Linked DNA regions of Homo sapiens: region 1 is reported to be linked to region 2. Evidence: microRNA targets listed by miRTarBase, many of them from high-throughput screens and not tested one by one. Region 2 holds a microRNA gene; the other region holds the end of a gene's coding sequence.
Evidence for each region. Region 2 holds the annotated microRNA hsa-miR-203b-3p (UUGAACUGUUAAGAACCACUGGA, at 4,552-4,574, opposite strand). A microRNA usually pairs through its seed, bases 2 to 8, with sites in the 3' UTR of a target mRNA and lowers its output. Matches are read on the target gene's strand: a 7mer-m8 pairs with bases 2 to 8, a 7mer-A1 pairs with bases 2 to 7 and ends in A, and an 8mer does both.

Region 1 (7,343 bases), not on the chromosome of region 2:
TTCTACCCTTCTAGACATTTTGTGCGTATATGTACACATATGTGAGTAGTAAATGAGCACTTAATTAGAATAATAGACCTTTCTCATTAGTATGAGTTCTTTTACTTCCTGTAAACAAGCACACTAAAAACTTTAATTTTTTCAGATGGACTGAGCTGTGTCCAATGATTGAAGCCAGGAAGAATCATGGGCTGGTATTTGTAAAAGACAAGATATTTGCTGTGGGTGGTCAGAATGGTTTAGGTATGTGATGTTAATTCACTGTTCCACTTTCCTGATGAGTTTGCTGATACTTCCTTAAATTATTGAAGCATTTTTAAAAATCTAGATAGAAGCATTTACCATGTATATTATTATATCTATTTTTATAGTTTCTGGGAATTAACATACTTGATAAAATATCGCAGGATGTTAAACATTCCTGTTTATGAAATGTCGCAGTAGTCACCAGTCATTGTGACAATTTTAGATGGCTCCTATACATTCCCAGATACCTCCTGGGGAATGATGTCGCACCAGCTTAAGAACTATTGAGCAATAGAAATATTTGAACTTTAAAAAACCTTTAAAAACTTTTTAAATACAAGTTTTAAGGCTTGTATCCAGGTCCTAAATGGTAAAGTTTCCTAAATATTTTTAAACATTGCATGAAAATATCAATATTGTAATTTTTAAATGACTAAATTTGGCATTTTGTTTTCATAAATAATGTACTAAAGAATCTTAAATAATTGTCTTAAATGAAAGGGAGTCGGAACTGAATCTAGACACAAGCTTCAATTTAGTCAGTACTTTAAGCATCACTTAAGTGTACCAGTAACTTCTTTTCCTTCTTCTGTCCCTGTCCATTGCTATTTTCCATAAAGTGCTAAAAGGAGGAAAAAGAAGGACATTTGAGTAATTATAATCAAAGTTAATCAGAGGGGAAATCACCGATTGGTTTATTTTGCATTTTTCCAGAATAGATAAAACATGTTTAATTTTGTAGAAAAAAATCAATATTTAAAAAGAAATATTAAATGTCTATTGTGTTAAGAGTAAGAATTTAGGTGGTGGCTATGTGGACATTCACTGTAAAATTATTACAGTTTTTCTGTGTGTTTGACATTTTTCACAATAAAATATTGGAAAAATACAAAAAGTTATTACTTTAAGAAACCTTAGAATTGTTGATATAGTTTTTCATGTTGTTCATGTTTTATTCTTTTGAAGGTGGTCTGGACAATGTGGAATATTACGATATTAAGTTGAACGAATGGAAGATGGTCTCACCAATGCCATGGAAGGGTGTAACAGTGAAATGTGCAGCAGTTGGCTCTATAGTTTATGTCTTGGCTGGTTTTCAGGGTGTTGGTCGATTAGGACACATTCTCGAATATAATACCGAAACAGACAAATGGGTTGCCAACTCCAAAGTTCGTGCTTTTCCAGTCACAAGTTGTTTAATTTGTGTTGTCGATACTTGTGGAGCAAATGAAGAGACCCTTGAAACATGAAAAATGAGTGGACTTCAGACTCATCAGAGACTCTAAAATATAGCCACCAGTGCTTTGTTCCAGGAGTTTGGTGACAAAGTTTTGGTTTGGTGTTTTGGTAAAGAAAGTTTCAAGTGAAATGAGGTTCCTATAAAATAGATGTTTCTTTTATATGGATTTCCTTAATTCAAAGATCATATTTTAGCTGGCCACAAAACCAAGAACATATCTAGCAAGAAAACTTGAAAAAGTATAAGCATTTGTTAAAAATGTGAATTTCTTGAATGAATTTCACATTTGTAACTATGATTTTGGCAGAATAGAAGATTGGCTCATCAGTGAAGCGCAGTATCTTAGCTCTAGATTCTATTTTCATGCATCACAGAAGTGCTATACGGTTAGGTCTGTTTGTGCTCAGTCAAGAACTAAGAAATAGTATGAATTGTAAGTCAAGATGGGCAACTCAGATGGAGCAGCTTAGTCTCACAGTTTGCTTGTCTATTTATTTTATTTAGTGCCAAATGTATTCCATTTTAAAAGTAAGCCAGAGTGAGTCAAGGCATATACACACTTTCTCACAAAACTTCCTAAACAGATTTGGGGGTTTAATATGTCCAACTCCTCATGAAATATATTCAATCCACTTAAATATATTCCATCTTTTTAACATAAAATGTAAAGCTTAGCACCCATCATTAATTTATGTCTCTGTTTTATCCAGTGGTTAAAAAAGGATTCTGCCTCTTTAGTCCTCACTGTTAAATAAAACCCAATCATAGTAAGTGATTAACTAGCAAAAAGTAAAGCTATTTATAGCAAATTTCTAGATCATTAGAAAAGCACTGGTAGTTGTACAATATCAGTGTTGACTTTGAACTTCTTTAACGAGATCATGAATTCTTTTCCCTTAGCCAAAACATGAAATATTTAACCTAGTTGTCTCTAAAAGTTTTGTAATCATGAGTTAGATATATGTCATCTCCTATTCATTGCTTTTATGTGATCAATAAATCTTTTACAAACCCAACTACTCATTTCCTTCCTAGTAATACTTTGCCTTTTTCACTGTGTATGGAATGAAACATGTAAAGCTGTCACAATCAATGTTTTTATCTGATAATATTAAATATTTTTTAACTTAAAATAGGCCACTCAGTTTGTTCTTCAAGTATTTTAGGTAATGGTTGTTTTTAGAATTTGTGAACCAGTGTCTCTTAATTTTCAGTTTTCTTTATATAGAGGTTATAATAGTCTTAAACCCTAAAAATGTTTAAATCAAAAAGGAATTAGGAAAAACATAATGATAGGTATATTTCTATTTGTGTAGGGTTTTTTAATGTACAGCTTTATTGAGATATAATTCACATACCATACAATTCACCATTTAAAGTATACTATTCAGGCCAGGCACAGTGGCTCACGCCTGTAATCCCAGCACTTTGGGAGGCCAAGGTGGGTAGATCATTTGAGGTCAGCAGTTCAAGACCACCCTGGCCAACATGATGAGACCCCGTCTCTACTAAAAATACAAAAATTAGCCAGGCCTGGTGGTGTGCACTTGTAATCCCAGCTATTCAGGAGACTGAGGCAGGAGGATTGCTTGAACCTGACAGGCAGAGGTTGCAGTGAGCTGAGATCAAGCCACTGCACCCCAGCCTGGGCAACAGAGCAAGACTAAAAAAAAAAAAAAAAAAAAAAAAATGTATTATTCAGTGGTTTTTAATATATCCACAGAGTTACGCAACCATCACCACAATTTTAGAACATTTTCATCACCCCAAAAAGAAACCTTGTACTGATTAGCAATGGTTCCCTATTTCCCCCAACGCCCCTGTATTTCCTAGGGCTACCATAACAAACTACTGCAAACTTGGTGGCTTTAAAGAACAGAAATTTATTCTCTCACAATTCAGGAAGCCAGCACTCCTAAATCAAGTTGTCAGCAGGGTTAGTTCCTTCTGGAGGGTCTGCAGCAGAAACCACACATGCCTCTCCCCTAGCTTCTGGTGGTTGCCAGCAATCCTCAGCATTCTTTGGCTTGTAGCTGCAGCACTTCAGTCTCTGTCTCTGTCTTCGCATGGGCTTTTTCCCTGTGTGTCTCTGTATCTTCACATGGTGTTCTTATAAGGACAACATAGGAGCCAGACACAGTGGCTCAGGCCGGTAATTTCAACACTTTGGGAGGTGGAGGCAGTAGGATCACTTGAGGCTAGGAGTTCAAGACCCTGTCTCTACAAAAAAATAAAAAGTTAGCAGGTGTGGTATATACCTGCAGTTCTAGCTACTCAGAAGGCTGAGGTGGGAGGATCACTTGAGCCCAGGAGTTCAAGGATGTAGTGAGCTATGATTGTGCCACTGCACTCCAGCCTGGGTGACAGACTGAGACCCTGTCTCATTAAAAAAAAAAAAAAAAAAGCTGGGCGCTGTGTCTCACGCCCTTAATCCCAGCACTTTGGGAGGCCGAGGCGGGTGGATTACCTGAGGTCAGGAGTTTGAGACCAGCCTGGACAACATGCCAAAACCCCGTCTCTACTAAAAATACAAAAATTAGCCAGGTATGGTGGTGTGCACCTGTAGTCCCAGCTACTCAGGAGGCTGAGGTAGGAGAATTGCTTGAACCTGGGAGGCAGAGGTTGCAGTGAGCTGAGATTGCGCCACTTCATTCCAGCCTGGGTGACAGAGCAAGACACCTTCTCAAAGCAAAATACAAACAAAAAAAGGACAACATAGGGCCCGCAATCCAGTATGACCTTATTTTAATTACACCTGTAAAGACCCCATTTCCAAACGAGGACACATTCTGAGCTTCTGGATAGACATGAATTTGGGGAGATGCTGTTCAACACAGAAAACCTCCCAAACACCATAGCCCTAGGCAACCACTAATCTACTTTCTGTCTCTAGATTTGATTATTCTGAACATTTTTAGTAGGGTTTTCAATTTTGCACTCTATTGAAAAATGTGGCTAGTTTAATTTTTTGAGAGTGAAATATCCATTTATTATATTACAATATAGCTATATAATTTGACAATCTCCTATGTAGAATATACAGTACCTGTCTAAGATATTTTAAGTACACCAGCATTTCCTTTTAGGCTATGTCAATTGACTAGAACACACTATAGTAAATACATACACAGGTTTGATGTGGATTATAATGAAGTGGTTTTTTTCCTTAGTAATCTGTATCATAATTCCCAATTAGTGTCTTTTTCTGCCTTGGAAATTTCTACAGAATTGTCAATATCAGGATAGTGCGTAAAAGTACACTCACCATACTGACAAGCACATTTTCTATTTTGTTGCCCAAAACTCCCTGTCCTGTAAAGTGCTCTGCTTGCTTTTTAGTAGACATTTGATAAGTTAATGTTATATCCTTTGCAATGATATTATTTTGATGACAAAGTAAGTTTATGCTTTCAAAAATCACAATTCGGTCAGAAAAGTTTAGCATCTTAAAAAAATTGTTGCTATTTGAAAAAAACAAAACAAAACATATACTTGTGACTTTGTGGTCCAGCTGGCAAAAACTTGACATATCATCCCATGAAAATTTTAAGTCATGAATTATTTTGACATGACAATATTGCTAACAAAATCAAAATCAGCCGTTTAATAAACAATTATTCCACCAAGCAGTCTATATTCCTTTTGCCATATATACTGTTAACAGCAAAAATTTTGGATTTGCTACATATGCATGGGTAAAGGAGGTATTTAGACGAAATTTTGCTTTCTAAGGTTATACCAAAGACTTGAGAAAATCCAATTTACTCCCACATGGCACCAAACCAGCTCTCACTGAGAGTCATTATTTGGACCCTTAAGTCCAAATAATCTGTTCTTTTAATGAAAGGACATTTTACAGGTGGCATCATTCAGCGTTTGATAAATCCTTCCTTTAAATAGCCTCCTCCCTCTTTACAGTTGCCTCAAAAGACTTCAAAAAGCTTGAATCCACTTTTATCTTTCTCACCTTCCTCCTTCCCAAGATGATTCACACTACTTTAGAAAAAATAAAAATTTTATTTAAAAAAGTCTGTGCTGGGAAATTGTTTGAAATGTTGCCCTTATTAACTAGAAATCTTTTTACTCTCCAGAGCTTTACGCCCTCTCTCATAACAGATTTAAAATGGGGTTCAAGATCTAGTTTGAATCTTATAGAAATTCCCTCAGACTTTATCTTCTAACCTTCTTTAATTTGTTCCCACTATCTACGTTTTCCAAGAGTACTTTATTTCTATAATTGTTCTTTTATATAGTATGCCATTCTTGTTTCATGTTATCCTCTCTGATGATATTTTAGTTTCTTTAAATTTTAAAAATATTTTAGTGTTTTTGTTTCCTCTAACTTCTTTTTCTGTTTCTTTGCTTTGCTCTTTCCTGTTGGCATCTGCCTTCAAATGTCTAGTCCCTGACTGTGCATTTGGATTTAAATGAGACATCTGAAAATTGATAATTCAGGGGTACAAGGGTGAGCTTAATCAATGAACTTCATTATATGATGAGGAGATGGCCAACTATTTTTGTTGCTAGTCCATAAGAGATCCATAGGTATTTTTCTGGGATGTTTGACTCACCATTCAATAAGCATAAGCCCTCTCTGTACCTGATGTCCTAGAATCTGAAGTGTCTCTCATTCCTTTTTATTGGGGAGGAATCCTATCTCCTATCAAGTCGAGACAGTTGCCTCATCCAATTGGAAGGGGAGGCAGCAGTATTTTTCCTCTGCCATCTTGAAGAAATCAGAAGTTTCCTTCCTGTAACCCCACTCTCCTGATTTCCACCTATATATACCCATCACCAAACCGATCACTACCAAGTCCTGCAAGCCCTAGGCTCTCATTGTCTCACACACACTCCACCTAGACAGTCTCAACCGGCATTCTGGCCTTGCCCCTCTCTACCTTCACCAAGCACTGGGCTTACCCTCACTTAAGTTTCAGTCACCACTGGTATTATTTTAGGTATTTGATCCCAGCAAAGTCCTTACACATGCTGACATGTGCAGGAATGAGAAGTCAGTGGCTACAAAGCAATACTGGTTAACACAAGGTGGTAATAAAATAAATATACTAAGGTTAATGAAAGCCAAGTTTCTTGTTATCAATGGAGTTAAAAATAGAGGAAAATAAAATGAATCATGTGATTTTGGATTGAAATTGGAGATTATCAGTGTGAACTCAAGTTTTTTTCTTTTTTTCATAGTCTTTGACATAGAAGGCATAATAGTTTTAATATATAAAATATAGAAATGTTTGATGTAAATGTTCGTGTTTGTTTATACATATGTATTTCCCAGCAATGTTCATGACAGCAAAGACATCCCAGTAGCAATAAGCACATTAAAGCTCAGATCTTGGTTTCTAAGCAGCACCAAAAGGACCCCTGGAGAAATAACTGATTTCAGGACTGGAGTAGAGAATGTAAAAATGAGCCTGGAACATCTCTGCACCAGAAAGTAAAAAAGTGCTCAAGTAATCATGGGGAATTTTTTTTTCTCCTTTTTCGAATGTGTAAAGGAGCTTAAAGGGGGTCCCATTGGCCAAATTGGAGATGATCTGAGCATCAAAATAAATAATGATAGTAATGGATTATAACCCATTGAATAACATTGGAAATCATGAGTCCATACTGATATAAATAAATAAGTGAATGAGCTAAAAGTTGGATGAACAATCAGATTTTTATATACTTTCAAAGTACCTCCCCACAAAATTCTTATTAATAACAAAAAGGAAAAGAATAACTTTATGGTAGAGCAGCTTGGCAGACACCACCTTAAGCAAGTAATCCATTGAGCATTACAGGTAACAGGACAAATTGAAATTGTGCACAACCTGCAATGTGAAAACCGCAGCATCAC
Region 2 (7,343 bases):
ACTTGGCCAAGTGGTCCTTTCCCAGCTGCCACTCCCCCTTCCTGCCACCCTGCCTTTGCCCAGGCTGGTCCCTCCTCCAGACACCCTCTGCCCATCTCCTTACCTCCTGCGCCTTCATTCTGGAGCTTGAAGTCCCCTCCCCCAGGCAGCCCTCCAACCCCTGGATGAGCATGCTGCCCCTGCTTAACTCTTTAGTCCTCACAGTCCCGTCCCAGTTGCTGTCTGGTTTTCTGTCACCCCAGTATCGCTGCACCCGGCCCCCCTCTCAGGCCAGGGCCACACCAGGGCTCCATAGGGCTGCGGAAGCCTGTGAGTGTCAAGGGGGCTTCACACTCTGGTGGTGAGCCCCTGGGGACCATTCCAGCCCCTGCTCTGCCTGAAGCTCCTGATGCAGCCTCCACCGTGAGCCAGGCCACCCTGTAAGGGAAGAGGTGAGCTGTGCCTGCCTGGTTGCACAGCCTGGGCAGGTGGGCGGGTGGGGCGGGCCCTGCTGCTGCCCGGTGGGGGTGGTGCTCCAAGGCCAAGGGCAGCCTCGTGCCTTCTTTCAGCTGGGGCTGAAATCGGGGGTGTGGACCCCTGGCCCCCATCATGTGTGCATGCACTGGCCTGGGATGGCCAGGGACTCCCTGCTGCTGCCCCCAGCCCCTGACCCCTTCTTGCTGGGTGTGAGGAGCATGGGGGCTGCCTCCCTCCAGGCCTCTCTACCTGCCCAGGTGACGGTTCCTTTTGTCCCTCTGTTTGGCTGGCCTCTGGACTGGAGCCCCAGGAGGGCAAAAGCATGACCCCAGAGCTGGCCCTTGGCACCTGGGCATACCCCAGGCTCCTCAGCCTGGTTCCCAAGCCTGGCTGGTACTGCCGCTGGCATCCTTGCTGTCCTCACCCCGACACAGGTGTGCCTGGGCCTTGCACAACAAGGTGACGCCATGCGAGCGTGGCAGGGCCGGGGAAGCCTTTGCTCCTCACCCTGGTGAGGCCCATGAGGGGCTGCAGGTGGAGGGAGGGTGGCACCGGGCCCCAGAGCCAGGAGCCCCTGCTGTCCCCGGATGGCCGAGACCCTTGGAGGGCCTTGGGAGAGGCGGTGGGGCATCTGGACAAATGCCTGGTGCAGGTGAGAAGGGGTGGGACTACCTCCGGCATCCCTGGGCTGAGCCCACCTGGTCTCCCCGGTTGCTCCTGCACACGGCAGTGCCCACCTGCTTCCCTCAGCTCCTGAGGGGCTGGGCAGAGCCTGTTGCTCACGCCACCCCACTCAGTGCTGCTCCGGGTTGTGAAAGCTGCAGGTGGCTCACGTTAGCCCACATGGCAGCACCCTCCCAGAGCAGGTGCCAACCTGCCAGTGTAGACACACCGACTGATGCCGGGGGTGAGTGTCCTGTAGTGTAGAAACGCCCACTCATCCTGCTTGTCCCGCAGAGAGCATTTGTCAAGCTGGCCTTTCTCCAACTGGGTCACTGATGGAGTTCGGCAGAGACGGCTTGGGGGCCACGGGCTGGGCAGATGGGGAGAGCTCCTCACAAGGCTGGGCAGCCAGACCCCCATTGTCAGTCCCCTCCAAACCCTCGTGGGATGTAGGGCCCTACCACAGGGAGCCCCGGGACTGGGCCAGTGTCTCAGGAGGCTGTGAAGAGTCATAGGCTTGAGTCTGGGAGCTTTCTCGGGGGCCGTTTTGTGCCCCTTGGGGAGAGGCCAGAGGGGCCCTGGGTAAGGGGACTCCTCTAGAATCACCCAGAAGTGGCAGGAGGTGCAGGGCCACTGCTCGGGGCTCCCTGGGCTCTGAGCTGGGCAGTGACCTGGCCCCAAGGCCTCTGGCTCTCTGGCGTGCAGTGGGAACAGCCGGGACAGACAGGCTTGGAGCGTTCGTGTCCTGCGCCGCGTTGGTGTGTTTCGTCCCCACTGTGCCTGTAGGAGGGCACCGGGTCCCCGTCTATCCTACTTCATGGCTGAGGAAGCTAAGGCACAGAGTGGCCCCGTCCTGCGCCCAGGGCTCTGCGTTGGCACAGGGCAGAGCTGGGCTGTGAATCAGGGCCGCCTTGTCTCTTGCTGTGGTGTGAGGCTGTGGGAGACTCAGGAATGAGGCACAGCCAGGTGCCCAGTGCCCGTGGGACCCGCCTCCCCACAGTGGGGTGGCGCCGCTCACACCTGGTAATTTCACGCTGGGGGAGGCCTTGGTTCCTATAGCCCATCTCGAATCACCTGGATCCCAGGGCTATCTCTGGGGAACATCTCCTCTCCATCACGACTACTGTCTTTTTCACCAGCATTTTCTATCCTAAAATCAGACTCCTCAGCTGAGGGCCCTCCAGGACCGCCCTTCCCCAGCTGGAGGTAACCAGATTTCTCGTGTATGCTAGGAAGTTCCCCTTCTGGTCACACCTCAATATTTCCTGCTGCTGGTGGGAACTGCAGGTGCTTGTACTTGTCACCTTCTCCCCGTCCTCTCTCGTCAGTTCCCTTGGATGCTGGACACGGGAGCCACCTGGGCGAGGGGAGCCCATCCAAGTGGCTGTGCGTCGGGAAGAGTCTGCCCAGGACTGGGCTAGACCAGAACTTAGAATTAAGGAGTGGTGGCCAGGCTTGGTGGCTCACACCTGCAATCCCAGCACTTTGGGAGGCCGAGGCGGGTGGATAGCTTGAGCCTAGGAGTTTGAGAACAGCCAACATGGCGAAACTCTGTCTCTTAAAAAATAAATAAAAACATTAGCCAGGTGTGGTGGTTTGTGTCTGTGGTCCCAGCTACTTGGGAGGCTGAGGTGGGAGAATCGCTTGAACTGGGAAGATGGAGGTTGCAGCGAGCCAAGATCGCACCACTGCACTCCAGCCTGGGCAACACAGCAAGACTAGGTCTCAAAAAAAAAGAAAAAAAAAAAGAAAAGAAGAGAGGTGGGTTCTTCTTGCCCATGCAGTTGTGTTGGGGGAGGAGCTCCCAAGCTCCTGTTCTTGATCTCAAGCTCCCCTATGCCCACTTCCATCCCCACCCCCATGCCGCAGCCCCTCGGACTCCACACCCAGGCACTGAGACCCACAGATGCAGCGATGGCAAGGCCTGTCATCCCTTCTCTACCACCAAGAGCTGTGCAATCCCCAGAAGTCACTGTCCCTCCCTGAGCCTCAGTTTCCCCAACTGCAAAATGAAAATAACAAAACCTTTCTGATTCCCTTTCCAGGGTGGCTGCGGTGGTTGAGCCACACGCGGCCCATGTGGAAATGTCTGGGGGGTCCCTCAGATCTGGTGGCTGTGTTCTGGTCTGGGGCTCACCTTGGCTCCTGAGCACTTGGCTCCTGGCTGGCTGGGCGGGTGGTGGGATGGCGTGTCACCGCCCTGCACTGGAATGAATGGTCACCACCCTGCTGCCCAACCCCATACAGACACACTAATGGCTCCAGACTTGGGGCAAGTGCTGAAGGGGGCTCTAGGGTATTTCCTAGAGCCTGAGCCCTCCCCTCAGCTGCCATGTTCTGCTGAAGCAGAGTCCCTGGGAGGCGCCACTGGTCAGGCCTGGACACCTCCAGGTGACTAAGTGGGTAGGACCGGCAGGGCCAGCTGCGCCAGGACGTTCGGGGCTGGGCTGTGAGTGGGGGGAGCGAGGCTCAGGCCCTTGCTGCGTGAGGGGGTAGGGCGTCCCTCCCCCCGCGTGGGAAATGAGGAGGCAGGTACGGGGCTACCCCTGTGGGCTGCGGGGTGGGGGTTCAGGGTCTGAGAAGCAGAAACCTCCCTCCCTCCAGTTTCACTTTCTCTTTACCCCTCCCCTTCCCCCTCCCACGAAGTTCCCTTTGAAGTGAGAGGGGCTGGGGTGGGTGTGTCCAGCCCAGCCCCCACACCCACCGGAGAGCTAGCGCGGCCCTGGGCTCCTGTCGGGCGCTGGTCCTCACCTGTTCCGGCCACCCTGGGCCTCGACCCGGCCAAGGTGGAGCCCCGGGCCCTCCGTGCGCCCGAGCACCCCCGGCCCAGACGAGACGGTTCGGGCGTGGCCCGGCGGGGACCCAGAACCCGGGAGGCCAGGTGCGCCCAGGCCAGGCGCTGGAGGCTGGGGCGCCGGATGGGGCGGGGCGGCCGCTGAGTCAGGGCCACCCCCGCGCGGGCGCGCGGAGCAGGTCCCCGGGCCGTGGAGGATCAGTCGCGGGACCTATGGGCCCGGGAGCCGCCCCGCCCGGAAAAACCGGTCGGGCCAGCGCGGCGCGGGCACATTCCGGCGCCGGGAAGGGCGGCTGCGCCGCATAAAAGGCGCCGCCGCGCTGGCCACCGCCGCTCGGAGCTCAGCCGCCCTGCCACGCGGGGCCCGCGGGACGAGGGGACGCCGGGGCCAGCGAGGACGCGGCGGGGCTGGGCTTGGCGGCTGGGATCCCCCAGCGCCAGGCGAGGGCGTCTAAGGCGTCCGGTACGGCGTCGGGGCCGGGTGGCTGCAGCAGGGCAGGGGGTGCGCGACCAGCGGGGATCTGGGCGCAGGGGCCGGTCCCCGGGATCCGCAGGCGACGCGGGCGGTCCCAAGGGCGTCGGGGGCTCCTCTCTCCGCAGCTCGGCGAACCGACGGTGTTGGGGACTCGCGCGCTGGGTCCAGTGGTTCTTAACAGTTCAACAGTTCTGTAGCGCAATTGTGAAATGTTTAGGACCACTAGACCCGGCGGGCGCGGCGACAGCGACGGAGCGTCCCACGCGCGGCCTGGAGTCAGAGTCACAGTCAGGGGTGCGCCGGCGACCAATCCAGGGGAGCCCACGGACCGGCTCCGCGCTCCAGGTCGGCCGCCCCATGCGCCGCGCCCCGCAGTCCCCAGGGCCTGGCTGGCTCCACCTGCTGCCAGGGAAGACCCTCGGCCGGAGAGCCAAGTGCTGCTGGGAGGTGGCCGGGCGTGGCCGGGCTGTGCTGTGGGAACCGCTGGGTGGGGGCGCGCTGGGTTGCCCACGCTCCTGGCGCGCTGCCGGCCTGGAGACGCCGCCGCCGCCCTCTTGCACCCCGAGGGCCCGCACCTCGAAACTCCGTGGAATTCCCAGCGAGGAACTGGCGGTGGGCCCGTAGGGTTGAGGAGCGCTCCTTGCCCTGGGCTTCCTGGGAGCTGCCCATCAGGCTGCCGGCAGCCGCACCCTGCTGGGCGGCCGATGGTTCCCGCTGCCGGCTCCCCGGAGCGTCTCCACTCACTGAGGCCTTAGGGAGCGCTGCGCGGCTCCTACGAGTGCGCGCTAAACTCGTGAAGGACCTCGAGGCACAGGAACTGGGGGTGGGGAGGAAGTTTGCAGACTACACCCAGGTAGAGGAGAAGCGGCGCCCATGATGACAGGTGCCTTCGCCGGAGCCTCCCTGGAACCTCGTGGTAGCTAGCGCCCACAGGAGAGGTGTGCGCGTCAATCTGCGTGTGAAGCCCCGGGCGGCCCTGGGAGGGACTCAGCAAAGGGTCGAATCTGTCCCCACCTCCAGCCAGGGGCCGGGGTCTTCTGCCTGGTGCTGCCTGGCCTGCTGTGTCCTCTGGGGTGGAGGGTCCCCCTCCAGTCCCCACCTCCTCACCCAGTGTTTAGAGAGCTGCGGGGAGTCCTGGGAGATGGGTCAGACAGGCCTGGGTTTGAGGCCTGCTAGGGTGGCCTTGGGCCAGTCACCTGCCCTCTCTGAGCCCGACCTGCACACATAGGGGGTTGATGTGAGGAGACAGGAGGTGACTGTGGAGGGCTGTTCCAGAAGAGGGCCAGCAGCAGGACAGCAAGGTCCCCTGGCCACCCAGGTGGGGGGAGTGGAGTTCCCGGGAGAGCATCCACCACTGGCCAGTGCCTCCTCTGTTGCTCAGCAAATGCCATTGTGGCCACCTCTCAGGATCTGGCTTCAGAGCTTGGGGCCGTGGGAGCGCCCAGTGGGTCTGTGGCATCGGAGGGGTTGGAGTGTCTTCCCCAGCTGCTGCCTGCTGACCACCGCAGCCCCCTGTAGCCATTTCATTTTACAAGCACGTTCCCCCGTGCCCTCTGCATGGGCCCTCAGCCCTCAGCAGCCCCGTGAGAGGGGCTGAGGCTCAGGTGGGAGATGGCGGCTGTGTCCCTGTTCTGCGGCTTGGAGGCATTCTGTCCGGTGTGCGTCTGTACAATTTAGACTGATGACAATAAACATGTTCCAAAGCATCGCTGTGTCCCTGGGGTGCTTGTCCTTTTCCCCCAGGCCTCAGCGTGGTTTCTCCCTTGAAAGCAAGCCAGCCTTTTCCTTCTAATCTCAGAGAAGCAGAAATGAGGATGGTTGGTGGAGGGGCAGTGGCCTGGTCCTTACCCAAGACCCTCCCTCAACTCTGCCTCTGGCACTTTGGTCTCCAGGGAAGCCCCCAGCCTCTGCCACCAGCTTTCTCGTTGCAGTGACCTCCCCTGGGCCACTGGGCCAGACCCCCTCCCTCGGGTTTGAGCTGCACTGCCTCAAGGAGCCAGGCTGGGGAAAGGGCTTGGCTCCCAGGGGCCCCACTTTCAGGGGCTCCAGCCTGCTCCCACTCCCCCCACTCACCACAACACTGCTCCCTTGGCTGGCTCCCACTCATTCCCGCTGGAGCCTGTAGGCTGGCCCTGGGGACCTGGCCAGGAGAATGGGCAAGGTGGGAGGGTTGAGGGATTGAAGAGACAGAGGCACCTTCCTCCACCCTCCCTGCCTCTGGCACAGGGGACCGAGAGTCTGTCGTGCATTCAAACCCCAGCTCTATGCCTACAAGCAAGTGACCTTGGCAAGTCCCTTATCCCCTCGGAGGACCTGTTTCTTCCTTCTGTAGGATGACGTGGAGCTCGCTGGAGGTTCCCCTGACATGATGCAGCACACTTCCTGAGTGCTCAGCAGGGCAGAGCTCAAGCTGTCACTGGAGCTGATGTGGTGGGAGGGCCAGTGGGGGATCCTTGAAGAGGCCGAATTTCAGCCAGGGCCTCGGAGGACCAATGGAAGGCCTCAGGTGGCAATGAGGTGTGGTCTTACAACAGGCCCCTACTTGGTCCCTGGGGACACCAGGAGGACAGGCCCCTACTTTGCTGAGACTAGACCTGTGCTTCCTGGCACCCCAGCCCCTCCACTCCGGCCTCTCCAGCCTCTGCCCCTGACCCAGGTGGAGGATGGCTCCTCGGGGTCCATTCCTTCAGCCATGGAATTCCTGAAGGGAAGCTGGGCACGTGGGGCTCCTGGGCTGCTGGTGGAGACACATGCCACCTCTACACAGGGGAGTGTGAACAGAGGCAGATGCAACTTCTGGGTGGAACTGGGGCACTGTGGTGCTGAGACGTGCCGACTGTGCTGCTGGAGGGCCACGCCGGGGCAGGGCAAAGCATCCCTGCATGAGGCCGACCCACCTGTCCAGGTGTGCCTGCGTGTTTCCTGATTTGGCACCGAAACGTTCTTGGAATCTTC

Region 1: the mRNA of KLHL7 is a reported target of hsa-miR-203b-3p. Seed matches in the 3' UTR shown: 8mer at 2,951-2,958, 7mer-A1 at 3,690-3,696 and 7mer-A1 at 3,798-3,804.

Annotation. Positions count from the first base shown.
Region 1 is chr7:23,172,803-23,180,145 of GRCh38, forward strand. KLHL7 (kelch like family member 7) reads left to right here. Exons shown (of 11, transcript NM_001031710.3): 10 at 146-243; 11 at 1,213-5,112. The coding sequence ends at 1,496. Among named protein-coding and RNA genes, the nearest start is that of NUP42, 5.6 kb to the right of the region's middle.
Region 2 is chr14:104,112,877-104,120,219 of GRCh38, forward strand. It overlaps MIR203B (microRNA 203b), which reads right to left and starts at 4,627; the gene lies at 4,542-4,627. It overlaps ASPG (asparaginase), which reads left to right. Exons shown (of 16, transcript NM_001080464.3): 16 at 1-2,706. It overlaps MIR203A (microRNA 203a), which reads left to right and starts at 4,529; the gene lies at 4,529-4,638.